Homo sapiens: one gene and its partners. The protein of the gene in region 1 purifies or fractionates together with the protein of each later gene. This does not show direct contact. Each region holds a gene or a part of one and is shown on either strand. Other genes may lie near its edges. The genes, in order: ZRSR2, CHERP, SERPINB8 and RBM17.

Region 1 (7,032 bases):
CAAAAACAATTACAGGTCAGGCGCAGTGGCTCATGCCTATAATCCCAGCACTTTGGGAGGCTGAGGCAGGCGGATCACTTGATCACAAGAGATCAAGACCACCCTGGCCGACATGGTGAAACCCTGTCTCTACTAAAAATACAAAAATTAGCTGGGTGTGGTGGTGCACACCTGTTGTCCCAGCTACTCGGAAGGCTGAGGCAGGAGAATCGCTTGAACCCGGGAGGCGGAGATTGCAGTGAGCTGAGATCATGCCACTGCACTCCAGCCTGGCAACAGAGCGAGACTCCGTCTAAAAAAAAAAAAAAAAAAAAGAAAGAAAAAAAATTATAAATTAGCAAAAACAGAAGAAAAGTACTTCCATTTTTAAAAAAAATAACATCTAGTTTTAGCCCATCAACTACAGATTTAAATACTTTATACAGGATATTTTATAAGACCTATTTGGTACAAGATTTTATACAGAAGACTGGTACTGGTTAGTAAAGGTTGATAATATTCCAATAAAATAACTTCATTCACTTTAAGTGTTTCAATTAGCACTGACCTCTCTCTTTCCAATAGCTTCTCTTCTTCTAGTTGTTGTTCTTCAATAAAAGTGTCCTCCTCTTCCTCCTTCTGTGAGAGTCCTAGGGAATTTAAATGTTTTATTAAACTGAGTGCTGCAAATCCTTGGTCAAAAATTCAGGAAAAAAATACATGTAATCTTTAATGTATAAAATTATGGTAAAAATCTTTTTCTTAAACTTTCTAACAAAAAGGTCTCTGATCAACCTTCTTTGGTACAACACAAGCATCAAAAAGGACAATAGGGGTGGCAGATAGCACATTACATTTAAAAATTAATCAATGGTTCCACAATTATACTTAAAAAGGAAATTAGCTTGGCATGGTGGCAGGCACCTGTAATCCCAGCTACTCGGGAAGCTGAGGCAGGAGAATCACTTGAACCCAGGAGGTGGAGGTTTCAGTGAGCCAAGATCGTGCCATTGCACTACAGCCTGGGCGACAAGAGTGAAACTCCATCTCAAAAAAAAAAAAAAAAAAGGTGGTGGGGGTGTGGAAGGGAACATCCATCTTCACAGAAGAATGGTAACTAAAAAATGGAGAAAAACTTAAGTAGAAAAATCATCACTTTTGCAACCCCCACTGTAAAAATTTAGACAAAGACATTAAAAACATCGAATGAAAGCTTGCTAGGAAGAGTATATTCACACTATCTCAACATATCACCCCAGACATGAGGACTAATTAGAAAAGAAAAAATGCAATGCTTTCCAATGGAGCGATCTGGACACTTTTTTTTTTTTTTTTTGAGACGGGAGTCTTGCTCTGTCGCCAGGCTGGAGTGCAATGGCGCGATCTTGGCTCACTGCAACCTCCGCCTCCTGGGTTCAAGCGATTCTCCTGCCTCAGCTTCCCAAGTAGCTGGGACTACAGGCGCGCGCCACCATGCCCAGCTAATTTTTGTATTTTTAGTGGAGACGGGGTTTCACCACATTGGCCAGGATGGTCTCAATCTCCTGACCTCGTGATCCGCCTGCCTCGGCCTCCCAAAGTGCTGGGATTACAGGCATGAGCCAGCATGTCCGGCCCTGGGTGGGTAACACCTTAACCACAGTTAGCATCACCGGGAGTGCAACAACCTGATGTGAAAGGTCTCATGATGTATGCAATAAGAAGTTTACAACATCTGCTCTGTAATCCTTTGTTCTAAAGAGTGTTGTTACCTGAAGTTAATCATGAGAAGACAGAACAATCCAGAATACAGGGCATTCCACAAGATAACTGGCTTGAGTTTTTCAAAACAATCAATCCTGGTTTGGGGAAGTTTAAATATGGCCTGTATATGATACCATTGAATTACTTGCTCATGTACTCAGGTGCAAGTTTGGTATTGTGGTTCTGCGGGAGAATGTCCTTATTCTTAGGAGTTGCAAGCTGAAGAATTTAGGGGTGAGGTGCTGCTATCTGCAACTGCCATCCAAAAGGTTCAGAAAAAATGTTCTATGTATGTATCTCTTTAAATAGAGAAAAAGAAAGAAAGGCCAAACTTTAACAACTGGCAAATCTTGCTGAAGGGTTCATGGATATTTATTGTGCTCTTTTTTTCAACTTTCTGTAGATTAGAACATTTCCCAAATAAAAACATGAAAAAACAACTTTTAATAGAATAGACATTTACATCCTCTCCCATTCAAAATTTGGGAAAAAAATCAGTGAAAGTGGAAGAGAAATGGAAGACTGAAATAATCTTAAAGAAATGTTACAGATGTCAGGCTTAAAGAAAAAAGAGTCTGTTTGTCACATGTGTTGAGTACAGTTCTAACTGAAGGCTCATCCAGTCTTAGATAATTACAATAATTTACTTTTCTTAAGTAAGTAAACTTTATTATTTCAGCAGCTGGAATTAAAATGGGCAACAAATGTAGAATAAGTTCTCAATCATATAAAATAGTATCTAATTGTTCAGATAATTAAATGATCTAATGTACTTAAAGCGCCAGAGAACCTGGCACAGAGGATATGGCCTGACTACTTGCAGAGGTATGCCATAGATTAGACAGGGCATAGACACAGCTGACACTCACAAACACCTGTTGACTGACTCACTCAACTCCCCATCACCTCGAAACCAAGCTCATATACTCCACAGAAGTGATTGCTAACAGTTCTGGGTACAGCATTTTCCCCACGTGTACAATCGGACATATGCAATACATATACATACAATACAGCTGACCCTTGAACAACACAGGTTTGAACCACCTTGGTCTATTTAAATACAGATTTTTTTTCAGTAAACACACTGGAACATTTAGGGGATATTTGCAACAATTTGAAAAAAAAAATAGGTAAGTGGCATGGCCTAGAAACACTGAAAAAAATTAAGAAAAAGGTATGTCATGAATGCATAAAATATATGTACATACTAGTCTATTTTATCATTTGCTACCATAAATATAAATCTATTATAAAACGTTAATGCAGAGCTGGGCGTGGTGGCTCATGCCTGGAATCCCAGCACTTTGGGAGGCCAAGGCGGGCGGATCACCTGAGGTCAGGAGTTCGAGACCAGCCTGGCCAACATGGTGAACCCCATCTCTACTAAAAATACAAAAATTAGCCGGGCGTGGTGGCAGCCCCCCGTAATCCCAGCTACTCGGGAGGCTGAGGGAGGAGAATTGCTTGAACCCGGGAGGTGGAGGTTGCAGTGAGTCAAGATCGCGCCACTGCACTCCAGCCTGGGAAACAAGAGCAAAACACCGTCTCAAAAAAAAAAAAAAAAAAAGTTAATGCAGATACTGTTAAGCAATATTGTGCTGGCTTGAGCAGCACATATACAGATACTGTTACAATATAAGTTAAGTGTTTTATTGTTTCCTTGCTTAAAGCATTTGAAACAGGCCAGGGAGCGGTGGCTCATGCCTGTAATCCTAGCACTTTCGGAGGCCGAGGTGGACGGATTACTTGAGGTCAGGAGATCGAGACCAGCCTGGCCAACATGGCGAAACCCCATCTCTACTAAAAATAAAAAAATTAGCCAGGTGTGGTGGTGCACGCCTGTAATCCCAGCTACTCAGGAAGCTGAGGCAGGAGAATTGCTTGAAACTGGGAAGCAGAGGTTGCAGTGAGCCGAAATTGCACCACTGCACCCTAGCCTGGGCGACAGAGCGAGACTCTGTCTCAAAAAAAAAAAAAAAAAAAAAAAAAAACGATTTGAAACAAAATGATCTCTGACTTCATTCCATTCTAAGACAGAGAAGTTCGGTCTCAAACATTTTTCCTTGAATATTACTATAAAAGTTGTGCTACAACATAATCATTGACAACTTTTTTTAAAGTTAAAATTTATCAAAACTTATATTTATAGACCATATATGGCACATTCACAGTTGAGAAAAATGTAAACAAACATAAATATGCAGTATTAAATCATAACTGCATGAAATTAACTGTAGTACAAAACAAGGAAAAAAACGCATCCAATGAGGTACAGAAGGAAGAAAAAAATTAACTGTAGTACACACTGCACTACTGCAATAATTTCATAGCCACCTCCTGCTGCTATTGCAGTGAGCTCAAATACTATGAGTATTCACTTAAAACACCTTGTGACACTACTCATCTCTGCATGAGCAGTTCATCTCTTCAGTAAATTGTGTATGGCAGTAAGAAGTGATCTCTGGCGTATTTTTCACTGTGTTTACTACAAAATGGTAAACCTTGAATAACATCATGAGACTCACACAAAGTGCGACTAGCGATGCTGGAAGTGCTCTCAAGAAGCAGAGAAAAGTCATGATGGCCGGGCGCGGTGGTGCGTGTCTGTAATCCCAACTACTCTGGAGGCTGAGGCAGGAGAATTGCTTCAACCCGGGAGGCGGAGGTTGCAGTGAGCCGAGTTCATGCCACTGCACTCCAGCCTGGGCGACAGAGCAAGACTCCATCTCAAAAAAAAAAACAAAAAACAAAAAAGAAAATCACTGAGGAGAAAGGATATCTGCGTGAATAGGACGCCCAGCTACTTTTTGTATTTTTAGCAGAGACAGGGTTTCACCATGTTGGCCAGGCTGCCCTCGAAGTCCCGACCTCGTGATCCACCCGCCTTGGCCTCCCAAAGTGCTAGGACTCCAGGCGTGAGCCACTGCGCCTGGCCTGAACAGGTTTTTAATGCAGATGAAAGTATCCTATTCTAGAAAAACACCACAAAGGACATTTAGTAGGAAGAGAAGCAAGCAGCAGGATTGAAAACAAAAAGAGACAGGCTAACTCTACTGTTTCATGAAAACGTAGTGGGGTTTATGATCAGAACTGCCCTTATCTATAAAGCTGCTAACCCCCACCCCCAATCCTTGAAGGGAAAAGATCAGCACCAGCTGCCTGTCTTTTGGTTGTACAACTAGAAGGCCTGGACAATGGAAATCCTTTTTTCTGAATTGGTTCCACTGATGCTTTGTCCCTGAAGTCAGGAAGTACCTTGCCAATAAGGAACTGGATTTTAAAATTATTTTAATATTGGACAATGCCCCTGGCCACCCAGAACCCCATGAGTTCAACACTGAAGGTGTCAAAGTGGTCTACTTGCCCCCAAACACAATGTTTCTAATTCAGCCTCTAGACCAGGGGGTCGTAAGAACCTCTAAAGCTCATTACACGTGGTACTCTACGGAAAGGATTGTCAATGCTATGGGAGAGAACCCTAATACAGAGAGTATCAAGAAAGTGTGTAAAGATTATACCATTGAAGATGCTATTGTTGTTATAGAAAAAGCCATGAAAATCATCAAGCCCAAAACAAAGTCCTGCTGGAGAAAAAAATGTGTCCAGATATTGTGCATGGCATCATTGGACTTAAGACAGAGCCAATCAAGGAAATCGTGAAAGAGATTGTAAATATGGGGGGGGGGGAAAAGTGCAGGGGGGTCGGGGTGAAGGGTCTCAAGATATCTTGAAGAAATTCAAGAGCTAACAGACACACCAGAGTAGTTAACAAAAGCCAATTTGATGGGGATGAGTCCTTCCAAACCAGTGCAAGGTGATGAGGAAGAAAACTGAGGTGAAGCAGTGCCAGAAAACAAATTGACACTAGACAATCTGGCAGAAGGGCCAATTATTCAAGACTGCTTTTGACTTCTTTTATGGACCCTTCTATACTGAAAACTAATGCATTTAAACTAAAGCAAGTGGTGGAAGAATTGGTACTGTATAGAAACATTTTTAGAGAAATGAAAAAGCAAAAATGTCAGACAGAAATTATAATGTATTTCTGCAAAGTTACACCAAGTGCCGTCTACCCTCTTGCCTTCCCTTCTACCTCCTCCACCTCTTCCACCTCTGCCACCCAAGAGAGCAAGACCAAATCATCCTCTTCCTCCTCGGCCTACTCAACATTAAGACAAGGAGAATGAAGACCTTTATGATGAACCACTTCCATTTAATGAAGGGCAAATATATTTTCTCCTCCTCGGGATTTTCTTAGTAACATTCTTTTCTCTAGCTTACTTTATTATAAGAATATGGTATATAATACATATAACATACAAAGTATGTGTTAATCAACTGTTTATGTTATTGGTAAGGCTTAGAGTCAACAGCAGGCACTTAATAGTAAGTTTTGGGGGAGTGAAAAGTTATATGCAAATTTTCCACTGTGGGGAGGGGCGGGGGGCGGTCAGAGTCCCCTAACTCCCACATTGTTCAAGGATCAAATGTATATCCAATGGTATTATACAGGTTGAGCACCCCAAATCCAAAAATGAGAAATATTTTGAGTGACAACAATGCTCAAAGGAAATGCTCATTGGAGCATTTCGAATTTTGGATCTTTGGATTTGGGATGCTGAACTGGTAAATACAACGCAAGCATTTCAGATAAGGGATACTCAACCTGTACATGTAACTGTACACACAGAATCATGCTATAGTTTTGCAACTTGCTTTTAATATCTTAATTTCTGACGAGGTAGCTTGTTTCCAGTTATCTGAAGTAGAATGGATGCCAAAGAAGCTATCTGTAATTAAGAGCTCACTATTCCAGAAATCATTTGCCAAGGCACTCCAATCATTTGCCAAGGCACTCTCATAGTTACACTCAACATTCTAGCCTTCTGGGTAATGTTTACCCATCTAACGTGTGCTACAATAAACAGCAGTGTTCCTGGCCGGGCGCAGTGGCTCACGCCTGTAATCCCAGCACTTTGGGAGGCCAAGGTGGGCAGATCACCTGAGATCAGGAGTTTGAGACCAGCCTGGCCAACATGGTGAAACCCCATCTCTACAAAAGTACAAGAATTAGCCGGGCATGATAGTGGGTACCTGTAATCCCAGCTACTCAGGAGGCTGAGGCAGAAGAATCACTTGAACCTGGGAGGCAGAGGTTACAGTGAGCCTAGATCGTGCCATTGCACTCCAGCCTGGGCGAGAGAGTGAGACTCTGTCTCAAAAAAAAAAACCAGGAGTGTTCCATAGTCTACAGTATTCATGAAGTACCACTAGGCAAAGAATTGTGAGTTGGAGTGGGCAAAAGTA
Region 2 (7,032 bases), on another chromosome or scaffold:
GACAGAAGCCTGGTGGCTCACAGAGACCCCCCACCCGGGGTCCCCGGACAAGTGCCCCCTAGTCTCGGGACAGGCCAAGCCAAGCTACCGACCGGAGCAAGCGGCCACCCAGGAGGGTTGAGGAGGAGCGCGAGGAAGTGGCGCTCTGGGCACGGGGTGGCGGCGCTCACCAGTGGTGCAGCACGTCATTGATCAGGTAGATGAGGTGCAGCCGCAGCTCGAAGTGTGCCCCATCAGCCGTGATGCGGTTCCGGAGGTGGCCGGCCATCAGCTCACAGTGCGGCGGGGACTTGGCATTGCTGAACATCCAGTTCTTCCCGGCCTGCAACAACCGAGCCAATGACGAGTGAGCAGGGCCGCGGCTCCCCCAGGCACCCACTGCATCCCTGAGAGCGCGTCACCATCAGCTCAGGGAAGGACACACCATGAGCGTGGGGGGCACAGGGTCCCACAGCCTCAGGAGCTCCAGGCGGGAGGGAAGGGCACCCATTGTAACAGCCCTTAGCCCAGATTGGCTACGACAGGCCCTGCCTCAGGGAGGGACCAAGGGAAAGCTGGGCTCTGGGAAGTGCTGGCCCCTCACCGAGATGGCGTCCTTGGTGCACGTGTCGATGATGGGCTGCAGGAGGTTGTCAAACTCGTTCATGTCTAGCTGGGTCTCCTCCAGAAGCTTCTGCATCTGCTGCTCCACCGCGTGGGCCACGGCCGCTGTCACTTGCTCCTGCGGGCGGGGGTCGGTGGGGTCGAGAACACATGAGGAGGGACCCGCAGCCTGAGCCCTCCGGCCTGGCTCAGCAGGGGCGGGGTGGGGACATGGTGGCGATGCCCGGACTCTGGGCTGCTCTGGCCATCAGCTCCCTTGCTTGTCCCCAGCAGGAGGAGATTCTGTCTCTCATGCCTGCCGTGAATCTGTGACAGTCCCTCCTGGAGTGGGCAGGGCACTGACAGGACATACCAGGAGACAACACCTGCCCTCCAGGTAACCAAGGAAAACACTGCAGCCCAGAGGAACAAACAACCTCTGCAAACCAACTCAACAAAAAACAAAGGCGGGGCGCGGTGGCTCATGCCTGTAATCCCAGCACTTTGGGAGGCTGAGGCGGGAGGATCGCTTGAGCCCAGGAGCTCCAGACCACCTGGGCAACGTAGCGAAACCTCATCTCTACAAAAAATAAAATACAAATTAGTTGAGCATGGTAGTGTGTGCCTGTGTTCCCAACTACTTGGGAGGCTGAGGCGGAAGGATTGCTGGAACCCAGGAGTTCAAAGTTAAACAGTGAGCTGTGACTGTACCACTGCACTCCAGCCTGAGTGACACAGCAAGACCTTGTCTCTAACAACAACAAAACAACAACAACAACAACAACAAAAAGAAAAGAAAAGAAAAAAAAAGACAAATGAGGCATGGTGTGAACGACAGGCAATAGAAGAAGAGGATACACCCATGGCCTCTAGTGAAGCAAGAAGGGGGCAATCTCATTCCTCAAGAGGAAACACCGGTTAAAGTGCGACTGGTAAAAACAGAGCTGCCATGCGGACCAGCGGTCAGTTACGGCTGGTCAAGGCAGGCCTCCCACTCCATGATGAACAGAAGCTGAGGGTGAGCATTCTGGAACTTTCTTTTCTTTTCTTTTTTTTTTTTTTGAGATGGAATCTCGCTCTGTCGCCCAGGCTGAAGTGCAATGGCATAATCTCAGCTCACTGCAACCGCCACTTCCCGGGTTCAAGCAATTCTGCCTCAGTCTCCCGCGTAGCTGGGACTACAGACACCTGTCACTGCACCCAGCTAATTTTTGTATTTTTTACTAGAGACAGGGTTTCACCATATTGGCCATGCTGGTCTCAAACTCCTGACCCTGTGATCCGCCTGCCTTGGCCTCCCAGAGTGCTGGGATTATAGGCTGAGCCACTGTGCCCAGCTGGAATTTTCTGAGAGCAATATGACAGTGTGATTTTATGCCCTGAACCTAGTACTGAGCGTGGGGTTGGTGTTTTGGAGGTTTGGTATTCTATTCCTCTCATTTTTCTGGCAATGCACTTGTAGTATTTTATTTATTTATTTTTTCTGAGACTGAGTCTTGCTCAGTCACCCAGGCTGGAGTGCAGTGGTGCAATCTCAGCTCATGCAACCTTTTCCTCCCAGGTTGAAGCAATTCTCCTGCCTCAGCCTCCCAAGTAGCTGGGATTACAGGCGTGCACCACCACGCCCAGCTAATTTTTGTATTTTTCATAGAGACAGGGTTTCATCATGTTGACCAGGCTAGCCTCGAACTCCTGACCTCATGATCTGCCCATCTCAGCCTCCCAAAGTGCTGGGATTACAGGTGTGAGCCACCACACCCAGCCAATGCACCTGTATTCTATTTGGCGAAAGTTATCAAACTGTTGGACCAGGAAGGACAAAAGGGTCCTTCTGGCCAGGTGGATCACCTGAGGTCAGGAATTTGAGACCAGCCTGGCCAACCTGGTGAAACTCCATCTCTACTACAAATAGAAAAATTAGCCGGGTGTGGTGGTGCATGCCTGTAATCTCAGCTACTCCAGAGGCTGAGGCAGGAGAATCGTTTGAACTCGGGAGGTAGGGGCTGCAGTGAGCTGAGATCACGCCTCTGCACTCCAGCCTGGGCGACAGAACAAGACTTAAAAAAAAAAAAGGGTCCTTCCCCAACCAACAGCTCCAGGTGACCTAGCTACTGTGTGGTGGGGCCAATGGTAGGCACCAGAGGCTGCCTGGCCACAGCCATTAGGGAGCTTCAAGGTGCATACGTGCCCCACAGTCCCACTCAGGGGGGTCCACCCCAGGGTGATGGGTGCACGCACGTCCAGTGGCTTCACTGAGATGAGAAGCAGCCTCTGTGTCTGGCATCAGGGCTGGGGGTGACAGTGGCTGACATGCACCGAGCCCTGGGTGGCAGGGGGGGCCCTGTCCTCACTGACACCTGTTATTCATTCTGATGAGCAGACGCAAAAACAGAGGCACAGGGGAGCTGCTGGTGTCTGGCCGAGGAGGCGGCGGGCCCATACCTGTCTGAGCGCCAGCAAGTGCTGCTCCTGCTGCTGGAGGTTCCACTGGCTCTGCTGGATGAGCTCGTCCATGGATGGCGCGCCCTGGGCCGGCGGGATGGGCGCGGCGGGGGCCAGCGGGGGCTGTGGCAGGGGTGGCATGGTGGCGGCTGGCTCCAGCTCCGGGGTCTGCTGCTTGCAGATGACTGGAGGGAGAGGAGGAGGGGTGCCCCATGAGAATGCAGATGGGGGTCTAGGTGTCCCCTTGGCCACCTCTCAGCCACAGGGGCCTCCCCCTCCCCAGGGACTCACCATCCACGAGGGCCTGTTCATAGCCTCATGCCCACGCAAACCAGCTCCTCCTAGTCTCGGGTCCTGCCCTCCCTCTCACAGGATCCCAGCCTCAGCATTCCATCTTCGGGCCGTCCCCTCCTCGGAGAACCTAGGAAGTCCCCTGGCCGCTCTCTCGCCAGCACCATCCAGTCCTTGCGCAGTGTCCTTCCGGTGCAAGCTAAGCTTGCCTGCCCACCTCCTCACCCACCTAGGCCCCACCTGATGCAGAACCCAGGCCTCAGTACCTCTCATCCTCCGACCTCCTCGGCCACTCCCTGACCTCTGCCACTTAAGCTACCCATTGACTGTTAAGATGTCACAGCCACCGGGCCTCTGCACATCTGGCCAGAAAGGCACGAAGCCGCACCCCCGAGCGCACACTGCGGCCTCCCCCACACCTGCCTTGTCCTTCTACTGACTCTCCTTGCTTCTCCAGCCCTTGGGGACAGAGACCCCTCTGCATTCAGGGGTGCATCCAGTTTGAGGCAGCAGTGAGACACCCATTCTGCCGGCAGAAGCCTGGGTCAGGGTGGGCGCAGGTCCCAACTCTGGCCAGATGGGGCAGGTGGTGAGGTCTCTGAGGAAGGGACCCGGCTCATAAGGAGGCCCTGGACAAGATGACCTGCCTCTCTCTCCGTCTTGGGGCCGCCTGGTCTAAATGTGACCAGGTACCCCTGGAGCCCTCCAGAGCCCCACTCCAAGGGGACCAGGACAAAGCCAAAGATAAGGGAGGTGGGGTGTCAGGTGGAAGGTGTCGCCCCTCACTGGGCGCTCAAGTCAAGTCTCGGGGCTGACTGTGCCCTCCAGTTTGTGCACCCAAAGCCACCCTACAGGATGACCCCCAACTTCTGCACTGAATCCCACCCCTCCCACTGTCTGAGGGACACTGCTTATTGATATTTCTTCTATCTCTTATTTCTCCAACTCCTCCCTCTTTACCCGTCCCTCCCCAGCAGCATCTAAACACATTGGGCTGGGCATGATGGCTCACGCCTATAATCCCAGCACTTTGGGAGGACAAGGCGGGTGATCACCTGAGGTCAGGAGTTCGAGACCAGCCTGGCCAACATGGCCCTGTCTCTACTGAAAATGCAAAAAATTAGTCGGGCGTGGTGGCGGGCACCTGTAATCCCAGCTACCTGAGAGGCTGAGGCAGGAGAATTGCTTGAGCTTGCAAGGTGGAGGTTGCAGTGAGCCGAGATGGCGCCACTGCACTCCAGTGTGGGTGACAGAGTGAGACTCCATCTCAAAAAATAAAAAAGGAAATAAATAAACACATCAGAATATTCTGGGTTGGAAACTTCTCCCTTTACCCCATGATCCCTCTCTAAACGATTTCTCAGACAAGACTCACTCCAGATCTTCACCTCCCCTTTATCTCAGCCTGGTGCCTGCTTGCCACTCCCCGCACCCCCCTCCTTCCCCCAGGCAGCTGAGGACACCCTCACTCAACTCAGCCCCCCGGGCCTGTCGCAGGTGCTTGCCTCCCTTGGCCTCCATGTGTTCGCCCCCTCAGTCCCTTTCTCCCCCTTTACCAACCCCTCTCCCGTTGGACCCTCACATGCTGGGGTGCGCGGCCTGTGTTCTGAGCCCTGTCCTCCGCTCTACGCAACCGCCGGGCAACATGAGCTACTCATTCCTGTGGCTGCGATTGTGCATGGTGTGATTCCTAAATCCATCATCTCCATTCTGGATTCCTGAGCTTTGGCCCTAACCACCAACTGCACGGCCCACTGTGTTTCCAAGGGGCCTGTGTTTCCTCTCACCCCCTACACCTATGTCCCCTCCTGTGCTCCCCGCACCATGGTTGGCACCACCATCTGCCCAGAAACCCAGGCCAGAAGTAGCATGTGCCTCCCAGTGACGAGCCACATAGTGTCAAGGCGGCCTCCGAGACATCACTCCAATCAGTCTATGTCCCCGCTGTCACCACCATGGATCTGCTGTCACCTGCGTCACCCCAGAACCGGTCTTCCTGCATCAGGTCCCATCCCTCTACCTCTTTTTGACATGGCAGTCATGGTATTGCCACTTATGGAGTGGTCCCTGGGCTACCCAGCGGTGACAGACGGTTATGGAACCAGAAAGGGAGCATTTCAAAACCTTTCTAGCAGCGTGATGGTTCACGGTCCACATTGTTACTGTGCTTTGCAGAAGTTTTGGTCCACACACAACAGGTTAGAAACTTAAAACACAACACCAGAAATGGTCCTTCACCACAGAGTTCGTGAAGCTCCATTCTACAACAGTTGAGGCCCAGGCTTTAAGGCGTGGGGTGCAGAACTGGCTGTACTGTGGCTAACCCAGCTTCACAACACAGACCTAAACCTTCCACGAGTCTCTCCCACGCTTCCAGGATACACTCCTCACTCCTCTCCAAGCCAGGTCCCCGACTCCTCCCCAAGCCAGGCCTCCAACTCCTCCCCAAGCCAGGCTCCCAATTCTGCACCCCCACCTCTGGCCACTCCAAGAACCCCTCCTACTCTGGGCTTCAGCCACCCTAAGCTCTGGGTTCCCCATTCCCTCCAAGGGCTCCTTCCTCTGCCCGGAACACTTTTCTCCCCTTGTTTTCACCTGGCCAACTCCAACACACCCTTTACATCTAGCCAAGATATCATCACCCACAGAAAGCACTTCTTGGCTGGGTACGATGGCTCACGCCTGTAATCCCAGCACTTTGGGAAGCCAAGGTGGGCGGATCATGAGTTCAAGAGATCAAGACCATCCTGGCCAACATGGTGAAACCACATCTCTACTAAAAATACAAAAATTAGCTGGGTGTGGTGGCGCACGCCTGTAGTCCCAGCTACTTGGGAGGCTGAGGCAGGAGAATCGCTTGAATCTGGGAGGCAGAGGTTGCAGTGAGCCAAGATCTTGCCACTGTACTCCAGCCTGGGCAACAAGAGCAAGACTCCATCTCCAAAAAAAAAAGAAAGCACTTCTTGGCTTCAATCTTCCTGGGCTATAAGCATAAGCACCCTCTCCTTCCTCATAATGGCACCAGCTTCCAAGTGGCCACCCCCCCGCCCCAGAAAGGGAAAGCAGCCCTTAGCTCAGTCACCCAAGCCAAAGCACCGTCTGAGGTGTCTTCCTCCCCTGCTCATTACACCATCAGGTCGTCAATATGCAACTGGCGCCCAAGTTCATGGATTCTACCCCTTCACCCCACCTGCCCCCCATGCTCCCTCCCTCAGGCTCAACCTACTGACTTAATTCAGACCCCACCATCTCTCACCTAAACAACTGCCCTGTTTGCTCCCCTGCAGGCCTCACTGCTCCCCAGGCTGGTCCCTGTAGCTTGTCCTACACCACCGGCCACACAACCCAAGCCACCCTCTCCCTTGTTTAAAACTCTTGTGGCTTCCCGCTGCCTTTAGAAACGGTTTTTTTTTTTTTTTTTTTGAGACGGAGTCTCGCTCTGTCGCCCAGGCTGGAGTGCAGTGGTGCGATCTCGGCTCACTGCAAGCTCTGCCTCCCAGGTTCACGCCATTCTCCTGCCTCAGCCTCCCAAGTAGCTGGGACTACAGGCGCCCGCTACCACGCCTGGCTAATTTTTTGTATTTTTAGTAGAGACGGGGTTTCACCGTGTTAGCCAGGATGGTCTCGATCTCCTGACCTCGTGATCCGCCCGCCTCGGCCTCCCAAAGTGCTGGGATTACAGGCGTGAGCCACCGCGCCCGGCCTAGCAACGGTTTT
Region 3 (7,032 bases), on another chromosome or scaffold:
TAGATTTTATGATGACTTCTGAATTACGTCCTTTGTAAATTGTTACTGATACACCCATCCCTGTTATCAATCCCAATATGTCAATTCTCCTGCACGCAGCCCTGCTTCTCCCCCTTAATTCCCTGTCCCTGAGTGACCACATCATTCAACACGCTGTACAGAGCTCCTCCCCAGTCCCAAGTGTGGTTATTCGGCTGCCTCCTGCTGAGGTAGCCTCTCAAATTCTCTTAAATTTGCCCGCCCTCTTCTGAATTGCACCTACAACTGACACAATCGTCTTTCTAAAATGAAAATCTGTTCATAAAATTGAGGTTTTAAATCTAAGCAGTTTCTATTTACTTCAGCATATAATTCCAAGGTTCCCTAGTCCAGCCTGGCATAATGCAATCAGTGAGGTTCAAAAATCATGCCACCTGATATGCAGGGTGATGTTGTCTTAAAATTAGTGAACTGATTGCAGCAAGCTTGGCCATCCTATTGGCTGGAGGTTCTGAGAGGACTCCTCTAAGGCTCAAATACATCCCTGTCCTGGTAGCTGCTGGGTGCTGTTCCCGGAATTTGCCTGCTCTGGGTTTATCTACCTCAGAAGGTGACTCTGGATCCCAGGAATCTCCTGATGAATCCATTTCATTTTTGAACATCAGCCTGATCTACTACTGTTGTAATACTTGGGACACAGGGAGCCAACCTCTACTTTTCCTGGTGGCTTGGCTCCTCCTTCCCTCTATATCCTCTTTCTTTGGCTGAAATTAAAATATTTGAGAACAGGGAATGGACAGAGGCTGGGAGCCAGTTTCCAGGCCTATTATATCCAAAGCCAGGTTTTTGTGAGGTAAGTTATCTGGGTTTTAATGTGTTGGGTACAGGACTTTTCTGATTGGACCCCAACTTACATTTCAAGGCTCTTCCCCTGCCACTGTTTCCCTTAATCCCCTCCCTGATACACACAAACACACATACACATGTACACACACACACAAACATGCATGCAATCCACACACATGCAGGTGCCCAAGCACTCACATGTACACATGTGCACTCATGCACACAGATGTTCACACGCATGCACACGTATGAACCCAGTTGCACACACACCCTATGATCCAGGCCTATCACGCTCCATTCCCATGGGGCCTTCCTTGCTCTGTATTCTTCCAACCAACCATATGACCCAGATCTAAAATGCTATTTCCTTCTTTGCAGTTCAACACGATTTCTTAACAATCTAGTTCCCTTATAAAGCCTCTCGTTTAACCAAAACCACAATACTGTAGTTGGTGCTGGTGATGCAAAATGAGTAAAAGTGTGTTAGACTGCCTAGTGAGGGAAGCAATATTAAAGTCAGTGGAGAGCGTTTGACAAGGATGCTCCTGTGATGTTTTGTGGATAGTGGCAGCTCATGATGTCCTGTAAGTGTCTGGGTGTCTCAGCTGCCTCTTCTCAGGCTGTGGACCTCCTCAAGCCAAGCACCTTGCCCAGTACCAGGCAAGAATAGGTGGCCCATACATTTTTGTTAATTGCACGCATGCACCTTGAAGTGGAGTGTGACCTGTCCAAGCACTTATTGTAGAAATGCAGTAAGAGAAAACAAAATGCTTTTGCATTTGTGGGAACCTTTACCAAATGAGACTAAACTCAGTGTTTTGTGTTTGCAGGACTTTAAAGAATACTGTCAGAAGTTCTATCAGGCAGAGCTGGAGGAGTTGTCCTTTGCTGAAGACACTGAAGAGTGCAGGAAGCATATAAATGACTGGGTGGCAGAGAAGACTGAAGGTGAGACAGTTTCATTTCTGTTGATTTGGAATTACTATACAACGAGGCTTAGATTGACTGGGATGGGACTTCCCAGGGTGTTGCCACTGTGACCTGCATACCACAGGCCTGTTTGTATGTGTTTGCTGAGTTTACAGGCCAGCAATGCAACTCTGTCATTTCTTATCAGATCATGAAGTACTGATTTCTAAAACTAATGTTGAATCTCTGACCTCCTCCCCTGTGGACCGTGCTGGAAAATCCCTGGAAAATGGCTCCTCCTTGGAATTCTGTTAATCTTCTATCTGAGAGGCCCTTCCATGCTCGGAGACAGAATGGCATTCAATTAAGTTGCGGCTTAGAGAGGGCAACATTTCATGCTCTCATGTTATCTCCTCCGCGTGGTAATGGGACAGCTCAGTAGTTTGATCTGCAGCCTTCTCCTTCCTTTTTAACTTGGCCATGGCTACATTTGCTCTCAGAGTGTGGCCTTTTCTGAATTTGTTCCCTATTCTGGAGGTGCAGCGACATGGAGCCTGCAGTGTTCCCTGCCCAGACCACATTCCATCCCACCAGAAATATTTCTGCCAGTTCTTTACTTCAGTAGGAAAAAGGGGGAGTCATACTTTAAAGCATCCTAAATACCTAACAAGTAATTTCGATACTTGTAAACGGTGGAGGAATTAAGTCACTTATTTCAAGGGCCAACCTAGCACTCATTATTGCATCCATTCCATCCTATGTCGCAACCACTGTGTGTCCAGCAGAAGTAATGCCCCTGATTCTACTGAAAGCCAATACAATAATTACCATGGGAAGGGAAGAGCCTTTTGTGTTTTCATACATCATCTGCCTAGTGGTCTTTCCAGTTGTTCAACAGTACTGTCACCTGAGGAACCTAGAAGTTTCTCCACACCTTCCCCCCACTGCCCTATACCTGTCACTGCTCTTCCAGGGCTGCTTATGCCCTTCCTTCCCTTAGGCTGACCACCCACATTTCCCCCAGAATATTAGAGCTGAAGGGGACCTTGGAGATGACCTTGTTACCCTCTCATTGGACAACTCAATTTGGGCCCCTCTATTCTACCCCCCTAATTCCTTTGCCCCATTCACCCCCTTCAGAGAGGCTGCCTTCTCCCATTGACAGATCTGTGTTCTCTCATCCTTTGGAAAGCTTTCCTTGTCTGATGAGGTTTGAATATATGCATAGAGCAATGATCCTCAACCAGGGGTAGCTTTGCCCTCCAGGTGCCATTGGATAATGGCTGAAGACAATCTTGGTTGTCAAAATGGGAAGAAATGCTGCTGGCTAAACATCCTACAATGCACAAGACAGCCCCCATAACAAAGAATTATCTGGCTTAAAATGACAATAGCGGTGAGGCTTGGATATGATAGTGCCAAGGTTGACTGCCCCATAGTCAGAATCAAGACTCTGGGGTGATGTTCTCAACTCAGCCACTTGTCACCTGTGTGCACTCAGCAAAAGTCTGGCAAATGCTCTGGTCCTGAATTTCTACATCCATAAATTGAGGGCAAAATGATAGTTGCCCTTCCTACTTCAAGATTTTTTTCTTAAGCACAAATGTTACACTGTGTATGCCACACTGCTAAACACCATCGCCTAATTCATCAGGGGCCCAGAAAGACAGAACTCCAGCCTGTCTCTCAACCAAGCCTCTGCCTTATGTGTCAAAGGGATTTTTGTAAAAGAATGCTTATTTCCCCACAAATTGCAATAAACTCTCATATTCTTTATAGGTAAGATTTCAGAGGTACTGGATGCTGGGACAGTCGATCCCCTGACAAAGCTGGTCCTTGTGAATGCCATTTATTTCAAGGGAAAGTGGAATGAGCAATTTGACAGAAAGTACACAAGGGGAATGCTCTTTAAAACCAACGAGGTAGGGAAAGATTTTTCAGATATACTGCTACTTTCTTAAAGTAATATTACAGGAAATATTCTCTTGGAAAAATGAATAATTTATTTGACATGATCTTGATTTTAATCTATTTCTGAATTATATTATATTATTTTATTTTCTTTGAGACAGGGTCTCTTTTTGTCACCCAGGCTGGAGTGCAGTGGTGTAATCTCAGCTCACTGCAGCCTCGACCTCCCAGGCTCAAATGATTCCCCAACCTTAGCTTCCCAAGTAGCTGTGACTACAGGTGCACACCACCAGGCCTGGCTAATTTTTGTATTTTTTGTAGAGATAAGGTTTTGTCATATTGCCCAGGTTGGTCTCAAACTCCTGGCCTCAAGTGATACACCTGCCTTATCCTCCCAAAGTTCTGGAATTACAGGCAGGAGCCACTGTGCCTGGCTTCTTTTCTGAATGAATTTAATGCCTCCTGTGTATCTTTAATGGCGGAAGGAAGAGAGAAACAAAAATAATTTTGGTATTGATAGTTTTGTTTTTCCATCTTTGATCAAATCTACCTTCCATCTCTGGTCATATGATTTGGATTGGAGGAGAATTTCTTCTAAGCCTTGGAATTATGTTTGCATGATGCTATTACTCTCTGTATTTAGTTAGATACCTTTTTGCAATATCAGTGGCAACTATGCCTATTTATTGCCTTAAAAGTCAAAGTTATACAATCCTGAGCACAAGAAAAAAAAGTTAGCAGATGTAAAGCCTAACTTTACCTTCCCTTTTGAATATTAAAATGGCTGGTATCAATAGTTGTTAGCTTGGGATTTGACATCCATCAAATATGATACTCTCATATTGCACAAAGATATGAAAGTTAAAAATATATTTGATGCAGGCTTTAAAAACAGCAGACCTTACACATCTCTTCAAGGTCCCCTTCCTAAGAAAGCCAAGGCCATAAAACCAATTCTACAACAAGGCAACTTTCCAGAGTTTGGACCGTACATCTTTTCTAACCAGATCCTTCAGCCCAAGGGCCTGAATATTTATCTTAACTTCGATAAAGAATTTTTAGTTGGAAGCTTCCATGAGAAAGCTTCTCTGTGAATGTTCTCAAAAAAGCAAACACAGCTTCTTCCAAGGATAATGTCAATTTTTGTGTCCTTCTCCATTTACCAAACTGTTTTTTTTTTCTCACCTGGTAATATTTGATCTGCTGGAACAATAGCTTGTTCTATTCAATACTAAGATGTACTAATGAAGATTTTATATCTATCAGCATAAATGTGCAGAAACAGTAATTATACACACCTAGAGTTTCTGTGAGTTAGATATATCCTATTTTTAGTAAATTATACCCACTTTTCAGTAATCGAACTTTAATTTTTCCGTTAGGAAAAAAAGACAGTGCAGATGATGTTTAAGGAAGCTAAGTTTAAAATGGGGTATGCGGATGAGGTACACACCCAGGTCCTGGAGCTGCCCTATGTGGAAGAGGAGCTGAGCATGGTCATTCTGCTTCCCGATGACAACACGGACCTCGCCGTGGTAAGCTCCAGGCAATGAGCCTGAGTATCTGTGGAGTCCAGCTGAGCTCATTTCTTTATGTTCATCTACCAATTGGCATTTGAGGAGTTTCCAGTTGGGGTTATTACAGGCAGTGCTGGGTGAACATCATTGTGTGTCTTTTGATGAACATGTTCATGCATTTCTGTTGAGTGTATACATATATGAGTGGACAAGTTTTGATGAAGCTAAGAAGAGAGAGTTCTAAATATATTATTATTTGGAATATTATTCTTTATTCTGCATGGAAGGTCTATTTGAAAGCCCAATGATTATTGCACAAAAGTCCTGGAAGAAGGGTAGGGATCAATCTTGGCAGTGATTCTCAAACACTAATGCACATATATGATTCTAGTGATCTTGTTAAAGTGCAGATTTTGATTCAATGGAGTGTGGCCTGAGATGTTGCATTTGTAACAAGATTCCAAGTGATACAGATGCTTGGAACCACACTATGAATAGCAAAAGTCTAAAGTACAGGTGGGAAATTTACCTTATACAAGAGGAGAGAAAAGTCTTACTGTGACAGAAAAGGAACAGAGTCCAGGAAGGGAAGTGGTAAACTTGCAAGGTAGGAGGTGCAAGACTAATAGTGCACTTGTAAACCAGCTCTGGGAGGTGGGAGAAGCCTTCATTTATAAAGTTTGCTGATTCTCATGACATGGTAAATACTCCCACCATGGCCGACTTTAGTCTACTGAGGGTTTAACAATTGATAGGGGTCAGCTCTGGCACACCAATGCACAGGATGTTGAGGGTGGGCTGCTTGATTTTCCTGGCTTCCCTTTGGAATCAGAAAGCTACTGCCCTAAGTCAGGGATGACATCTGTTGTGGCCACTTATGAGAAAATTAGGAGAGTCTAGAAATAGAGTCAAAATCAAAACAATGCTCGTTGGAGAGGAGTACCCACCTGGGCTCCAGTTGTTAAAGGGAAGGGGAGATGCTAGTGGAAGGCCTTTCTCCCTTTTTTCTTTCTACCTTATTGATAAATAGAAAGAGTGATGGATCTTGAAGAATTTGAAGCTAACTCCAGGACAGGCAGAGGACAAACAAGGATGCTGATGAAGTCTTCTTGCATTCCCCATTTCTCGTCTCATGCTCCCTTCTCATGCCTCCCTTCATCTTCAGATGAAACACAATTCCCTCTCTTTTACTCTGAGTTGCCCTCTGATTTAACCCTGAATAGTCCCCTCATTAGACTCAGAAGCAGAGTTCTGAGCCATGCTCTTTGTCTTTTGTCAAACAATCTCTCCCACTCACAGTAGTATGTATTGCATGAAGATTAATGTAATGAATTGGTTAGAATTTTCTAAACTGTTAAAAAATGTTTTTAACATTTGAAAGGAGTTAGGTACAAATTGTTTTTATTAAAAATTTCTGCCTGTCTCAGGTGTTTACTAGCTCTTTTACACTTGTCTCCATAAAACTGTGAAAAGATGAAAATTTGGGAGAAAATCTTGGTGTGTTTATAAAAGAAAATATCTGTAGATTTTCTTGGACCAGAACTCACCATCTAATTGCATGTCATTGGGGGAGGGGTAATAAATGGGTGTGTGGGTATCAGGCTATTGTCATCTAAATTTTAAGGTTTGAGTCTTTCTTATCCTAGGTGGAAAAAGCACTTACATATGAGAAATTCAAAGCCTGGACAAATTCAGAAAAGTTGACAAAAAGTAAGGTTCAAGTTTTCCTTCCCAGATTAAAGCTGGAGGAGAGTTATGACTTGGAGCCTTTCCTTCGAAGATTAGGAATGATCGATGCTTTTGACGAAGCCAAGGCAGACTTTTCTGGAATGTCAACTGAGAAGAATGTGCCTCTGTCCAAGGTTGCCCA
Region 4 (4,946 bases), on another chromosome or scaffold:
GAAGAAAACTTTTCTGGCAGCCCCGTTCATGCACAGCTTAGGATACATCACGAGCCTGACAGGTGAGTGCCAGAAACCAACAGTTGTCCCGACTTGTGAGGTTATCTGAAGTAAGGCAGCCGGTGGCTGGATTAGTAACTGCATATTCCCCTGGGCCCGTGACCTTGAACGTTTGCTCCAAGTCAACTCACCTATAGGAATTATCACTCACATGCCCTGTCAGCCCTTTGGGAAGTGAGATGAGCAAAAATTGCAAGTAATGGTGGAGGCTCAAAACATCCAGATGCTATTGTAAAAACATGCCAAAGCAAAGCAGAGGCTTTTATTGCAGATAAGGCTGTGTTTTCGCTCAGAGACCAATTGTGTAGATGCCTAGGACATAAATGGTGGGGATCGCTATTGAAATTAAATTAATTATTGTAAGTAGGACTCAGTTCTGTAACACATCTAATGATATGCTGCTCAGTTCTGTAACACATCTAATGGTATGTTTTGATACAGATGCATCCAAGAAGTCAGATTCAAATCCGCTGACTGAAATACTTAAGTGTCCTACTAAAGTGGTCTTACTAAGGGTAAGAAGCTGAGGAAAGCAAGCTCTCTGCCTGCCTAGATTTGTGTGTGTCACCCCAGCCTACCCTGCTCCCCCTAAAAGTTAAAACTGAAAATGATACTTTTGCAAATAATACTTTGGGCAGATCCCACGTAAGGCTGATTTTAGATTTTTCACTAATGTGTAAGTCTCTTTGCTAAGTACAGTGTTTAAGACTGCAGTGAGTAATTAAATATTTGAAATTGCTAGAGCTTCAGATAGTTTATACATTTTGGTGCTTGCATAGATGCTTTTGTAACTCTTTACAGGCTTAATATATGTTTTAGTGTTTTAAGAAATACTAACTTTTGGGTACTTTGGGGATGAAATTTTTCATTATGTCGTTTGGGATTGAGAACATTTACCATCACTAAGTCATATTTATATACCTCTGCTAGGTGTTTGTAAGTTATACTTGGTACTTGAATTTGTTTATTTTTGTGTTTAAAGAACATGGTTGGTGCGGGAGAGGTGGATGAAGACTTGGAAGTTGAAACCAAGGAAGAATGTGAAAAATATGGCAAAGTTGGAAAATGTGTGATATTTGAAGTAAGAGTGTTTTCTTTTGATGTTTATAACACAAGTTGTAATTGGCACATTACAAAACATTTTCTACAAACAGGACAGGGTATGCTATAAGTAACATTCTTACTGCAGAAGGTGACAGGCGTTGGTTATTTGTACTTCTCTTGCTCAATTATTACAGTTTTAAACATAAAGACAATGATTTCAAGTTTTATTTGATGAAGAAACAGGAATGCTTCATGATTGAGGATCAGTATGATGACTGAAGACCTTGATTCTAGCGTGCTCAGTAGTTTAGTTCCTTAGACATGCCTTTGGTTTCAGTCATTTGGTGAGTATTTAGTGCCTCTCACATGCACTGCACTGTGCGGAGAGCACTTGGATTACAGGAAGCATGCTCTGTACTCTCAGTGGTGTGTTCAGTTGAAGAAACACATAAAATAACTGAAAGATATTCAGTTACTAGACTAGGTAGTATTGACTAAGTTCAGGAGTTGAGAAAAGGATTAGATCAGTGAAAAAATAGACTGCCTTGTGAGCAATAGCAGATATGGGCTGCGCTTTGAAACGAACAGGTGGGATTTGCAGGGAAGGGTATTCTGATTGGGATAATGGCTCGTAGGAGACAGTGAAGATCAGGACTACCAAAATGGAATGGATGGGCCTGTTGGGGATTAGCAGAAGTGCTTAGGTGGGTGGAATTACAGAGGGCTAGGAAAGCTAGACAGAGCTAGTCAAAATGAGACCTGATGTGAAAGGCCACTAGGGCACCAGCCTTTTTAATCTGAAAGCTCTGCTTCCTCTGTTTCTTTATCCTGTTGCTGTTTGTTGACCACATAATTATTTGTTTACGTCATCAGCTGGCACAGGGCCTTTATGAGGTCAGAGACTGCCTAGCCCTGTGTTCCTGGCACCTAACAATGCCTGTCATAAAAACAGGCATTCAGTACGTTTTTGATGATGAACAAATTATACTTATTTCCTTGGTATTTGACAACTACTTGACTGTATATGATGATAATTAGAATATCCACTCTGAGAAATCATTTAAAAGAGAAAACTCATTCAATGCAATCTCAAATGCCTTTACTCATCACGCTCTCATTTTCTTCCAGATTCCTGGTGCCCCTGATGATGAAGCAGTACGGATATTTTTAGAATTTGAGAGAGTTGAATCAGCAATTAAAGGTTAGTGGTACAGCTAAATATTAAAGAATAAAAAAGTTGAATTTACAGCCTTAATCTTTACAAGTAAAGTTACTGTTTAATTAAAGTTAAACCTTTATCTTATAGGATACCTGTATTAACTGTCTTTTGTTTGCCTTTCAGCGGTTGTTGACTTGAATGGGAGGTATTTTGGTGGACGGGTGGTAAAAGCATGTTTCTACAATTTGGACAAATTCAGGGTCTTGGATTTGGCAGAACAAGTTTGATTTTAAGAACTAGAGCACGAGTCATCTCCGGTGATCCTTAAATGAACTGCAGGCTGAGAAAAGAAGGAAAAAGGTCACAGCCTCCATGGCTGTTGCATACCAAGACTCTTGGAAGGACTTCTAAGATATATGTTGATTGATCCCTTTTTTATTTTGTGGTTTTTTAATATAGTATAAAAATCCTTTTAAAAAAACAACAATCTGTGTGCCTCTCTGGTTGTTTCTCTTTTTTATTATTACTCCTGAGTTGATGACATTTTTTGTTAGATTTCATGGTAATTCTCAAGTGCTTCAATGATGCAGCATTTCTTGCACTAAAAAAAAAAAAAAAAAAAAAACTAGAAAGTTTTGGGACATGGGGTTATATTAAATTATTCTTTGTTTTTCTTTTTCTTTTAATAAAGCCTGCAAGTTACTAAATTGTAGTTTCATAAATTCTGTAGTAAAGTATCATCTTGGCAGTGTGCCAAAGGTGAAAATGATGCTTTCTCTAACAGAGAAATTCTTAGTGACTCCAGTCGTAGAAAAACGTCTTTACAACCTGAATAAGATTGAAGAATTGTGAACATACCATGGCCTATTGGATGAATCATTTGCCGTAGGCTAAATCAGACTGTAGGGTTTGTGATGGATTTATGGAGTATGTGGGTATAGAAATCATGAATCTAGCATTTGTTTTCAGAGATTCAAGCATAGTCTTAAGGGTAGATCAGAAATGACAAATGAATTCAAAACCTAGCAGGTGCATTGTAAATGTGTGCCCAGTTATGTTTTGGAAATGGCAGTTCCTTGGGGTCATGTTTCTACTGGCAAAATTTGCAATAGTGTTCTATTGTATGTAATTTTAAAATTTATAAGATTATCCACGTTGGCCAAGTAAACTGTACTGCCAATAGAATTCTGGAATTGTGAGAAATTGTATCATTGAAGTTCAGTAGGATGTGTGGCTTAAAAATTTATCAGGACCACAAAAAAGAAAACAAAAATATTTGGTACTGAGGTTCATTGCCAGGGCAGGAGGTATTTCCAGAAAATACTCATGCCTGTGTTCTGTTCCTTGCTTTCCCAAATACTGCATGTGACTTTCCTAAGCGGCAGCTGAAAGACTCGAGCCCGTGCTGTCTCCTTTGGTTATTATGACATGAAAGTGTATCAAGAACTCAGCATTTCTTTGCATCCATGGACTTGGTTTGGAGACATAAGGAATATTCTGACCCTTTTTAAAAAAGGATTTTCTCATGTTTTTATTTAACATAAATAAAAGAATAACATTTTATCTTTTGTGGTATTATTTTATTGAATAAAATTGAGTTTTATGATAAAAGTGCACCTGTTCTGTAAAGTAAGTTGGGGTTAAGGAATGTGAGGTAAATTACATAATTGAACATTGTGGAAGACAGAATCAAAAGCAGCCCTGGAACTTCAGTTATCTATGGAATTAGGCATACCATTCCTCAAGTGGAAACCATGTTTGTGCTTACAAGTACCGGAGTGTGCTTGTTTAATTTTAGAAACTAATGGTTCCAACCCACCTTTCATGCATGCATTTATTGTTGTTATGCTTTGTAAAACATTGTTTGCACCTAAATGGGTGGCTTTTCCTAACATTCTCATGGTCAGCAACCAGAGAGTTGCAACCAACTCATACTACTTGATTTCCGTTCGCATGAGGACAGCTTGGTGTGTGCCTTTCTCCCCAGTCTTTTATTTTTAAAATAACTGTGTTAATCAGTTAGTGCTTTATTTATAATGAATTTCTGATAGTCGAATAATTTCTAAATCTCCTGCAAGTTAGTACTTGAGAAATTTGAAATTAATTTTCAATATTAACATTTAAGCTAATATAAAAATTTTAAATTTCAATAAAAATTAAAAATTATGTAAGCTACAATGTAACTGGCAAGTTTCCGTGTAATAGACGTTTGTCATTCTTGGTGGCCCATCTGTGAGTTTTTGAAACCCCTTTTTCTTTTTTTTTCTTTTTTTTTTGAGACGGAGTCTTGCTCTGTCGCCCAGGCTGGAGTGCAGTGGCATGATCTGGGCTCACTGCAACCTCCGCCTTCTGGGTTCACGCCATTCTTCTGCCTCAGCCTCCCAAGTAGCTGGGACTACAGGCGCCCGCCACCACGCCCGGCTAATTTTTTGTATTTTTAATAGAGACGGGGTTTCTCCGTGTTAGCCAGGATGGTCTTGATCTCCTGACCCGTGATCCGCCTCAGCCTCCCCAAGTGCTGGGATTACAGGTGTGAGCCACCGAGCCCAGCCTGAAACGCCTTTTTCTGTGTGGGGAACTTCCTTGTTTCCCTCCTCCCCGCAAGAGACTAGAAACTTGCTTTCCCAGCCTGTCTTGCAGGTTGAGTAGGGTTGTGCGCTTGGGATCTCTGATCAGACCGGCA

The links.
Region 2: the proteins of ZRSR2 (region 1) and CHERP purify together in Homo sapiens (affinity purification with mass spectrometry; 3 studies listed by BioGRID and IntAct, with this or other methods). This does not show direct contact.
Region 3: the proteins of ZRSR2 (region 1) and SERPINB8 purify together in Homo sapiens (affinity purification with mass spectrometry; 3 studies listed by BioGRID and IntAct, with this or other methods). This does not show direct contact.
Region 4: the proteins of ZRSR2 (region 1) and RBM17 purify together in Homo sapiens (affinity purification with mass spectrometry; 4 studies listed by BioGRID and IntAct, with this or other methods). This does not show direct contact.

The regions. Positions count from the first base shown.
Region 1 is NC_000023.11:15,793,469-15,800,500, reverse strand, and holds part of ZRSR2 (U2 small nuclear ribonucleoprotein auxiliary factor 35 kDa subunit-related protein 2), read right to left. Parts: exon of another isoform or gene 4,452-7,032; coding exon of another isoform or gene 4,251-4,451; intron 630-4,250; coding exon 548-629; intron 1-547. UniProt on the Homo sapiens protein: Pre-mRNA-binding protein required for splicing of both U2- and U12-type introns. Selectively interacts with the 3'-splice site of U2- and U12-type pre-mRNAs and promotes different steps in U2 and U12 intron splicing.
Region 2 is NC_000019.10:16,532,428-16,539,459, forward strand, and holds part of CHERP (calcium homeostasis endoplasmic reticulum protein), read right to left. Parts: intron 3,210-7,032; coding exon 3,025-3,209; intron 722-3,024; coding exon 584-721; intron 323-583; coding exon 171-322; intron 1-170. UniProt on the Homo sapiens protein: Involved in calcium homeostasis, growth and proliferation.
Region 3 is NC_000018.10:63,980,066-63,987,097, forward strand, and holds part of SERPINB8 (serpin B8), read left to right. Parts: intron 1-1,655; coding exon 1,656-1,773; intron 1,774-3,513; coding exon 3,514-3,656; intron 3,657-5,027; coding exon 5,028-5,180; intron 5,181-6,192; coding exon of another isoform or gene 6,193-6,201; exon of another isoform or gene 6,202-6,585; intron 6,586-6,808; coding exon 6,809-7,032. UniProt on the Homo sapiens protein: Has an important role in epithelial desmosome-mediated cell-cell adhesion.
Region 4 is NC_000010.11:6,113,007-6,117,952, forward strand, and holds the end of RBM17 (splicing factor 45), read left to right. Parts: intron 1-501; coding exon 502-575; intron 576-1,042; coding exon 1,043-1,141; intron 1,142-2,232; coding exon 2,233-2,305; intron 2,306-2,446; coding exon 2,447-2,550; 3' UTR 2,551-4,441; downstream 4,442-4,946. UniProt on the Homo sapiens protein: Splice factor that binds to the single-stranded 3'AG at the exon/intron border and promotes its utilization in the second catalytic step. Involved in the regulation of alternative splicing and the utilization of cryptic splice sites.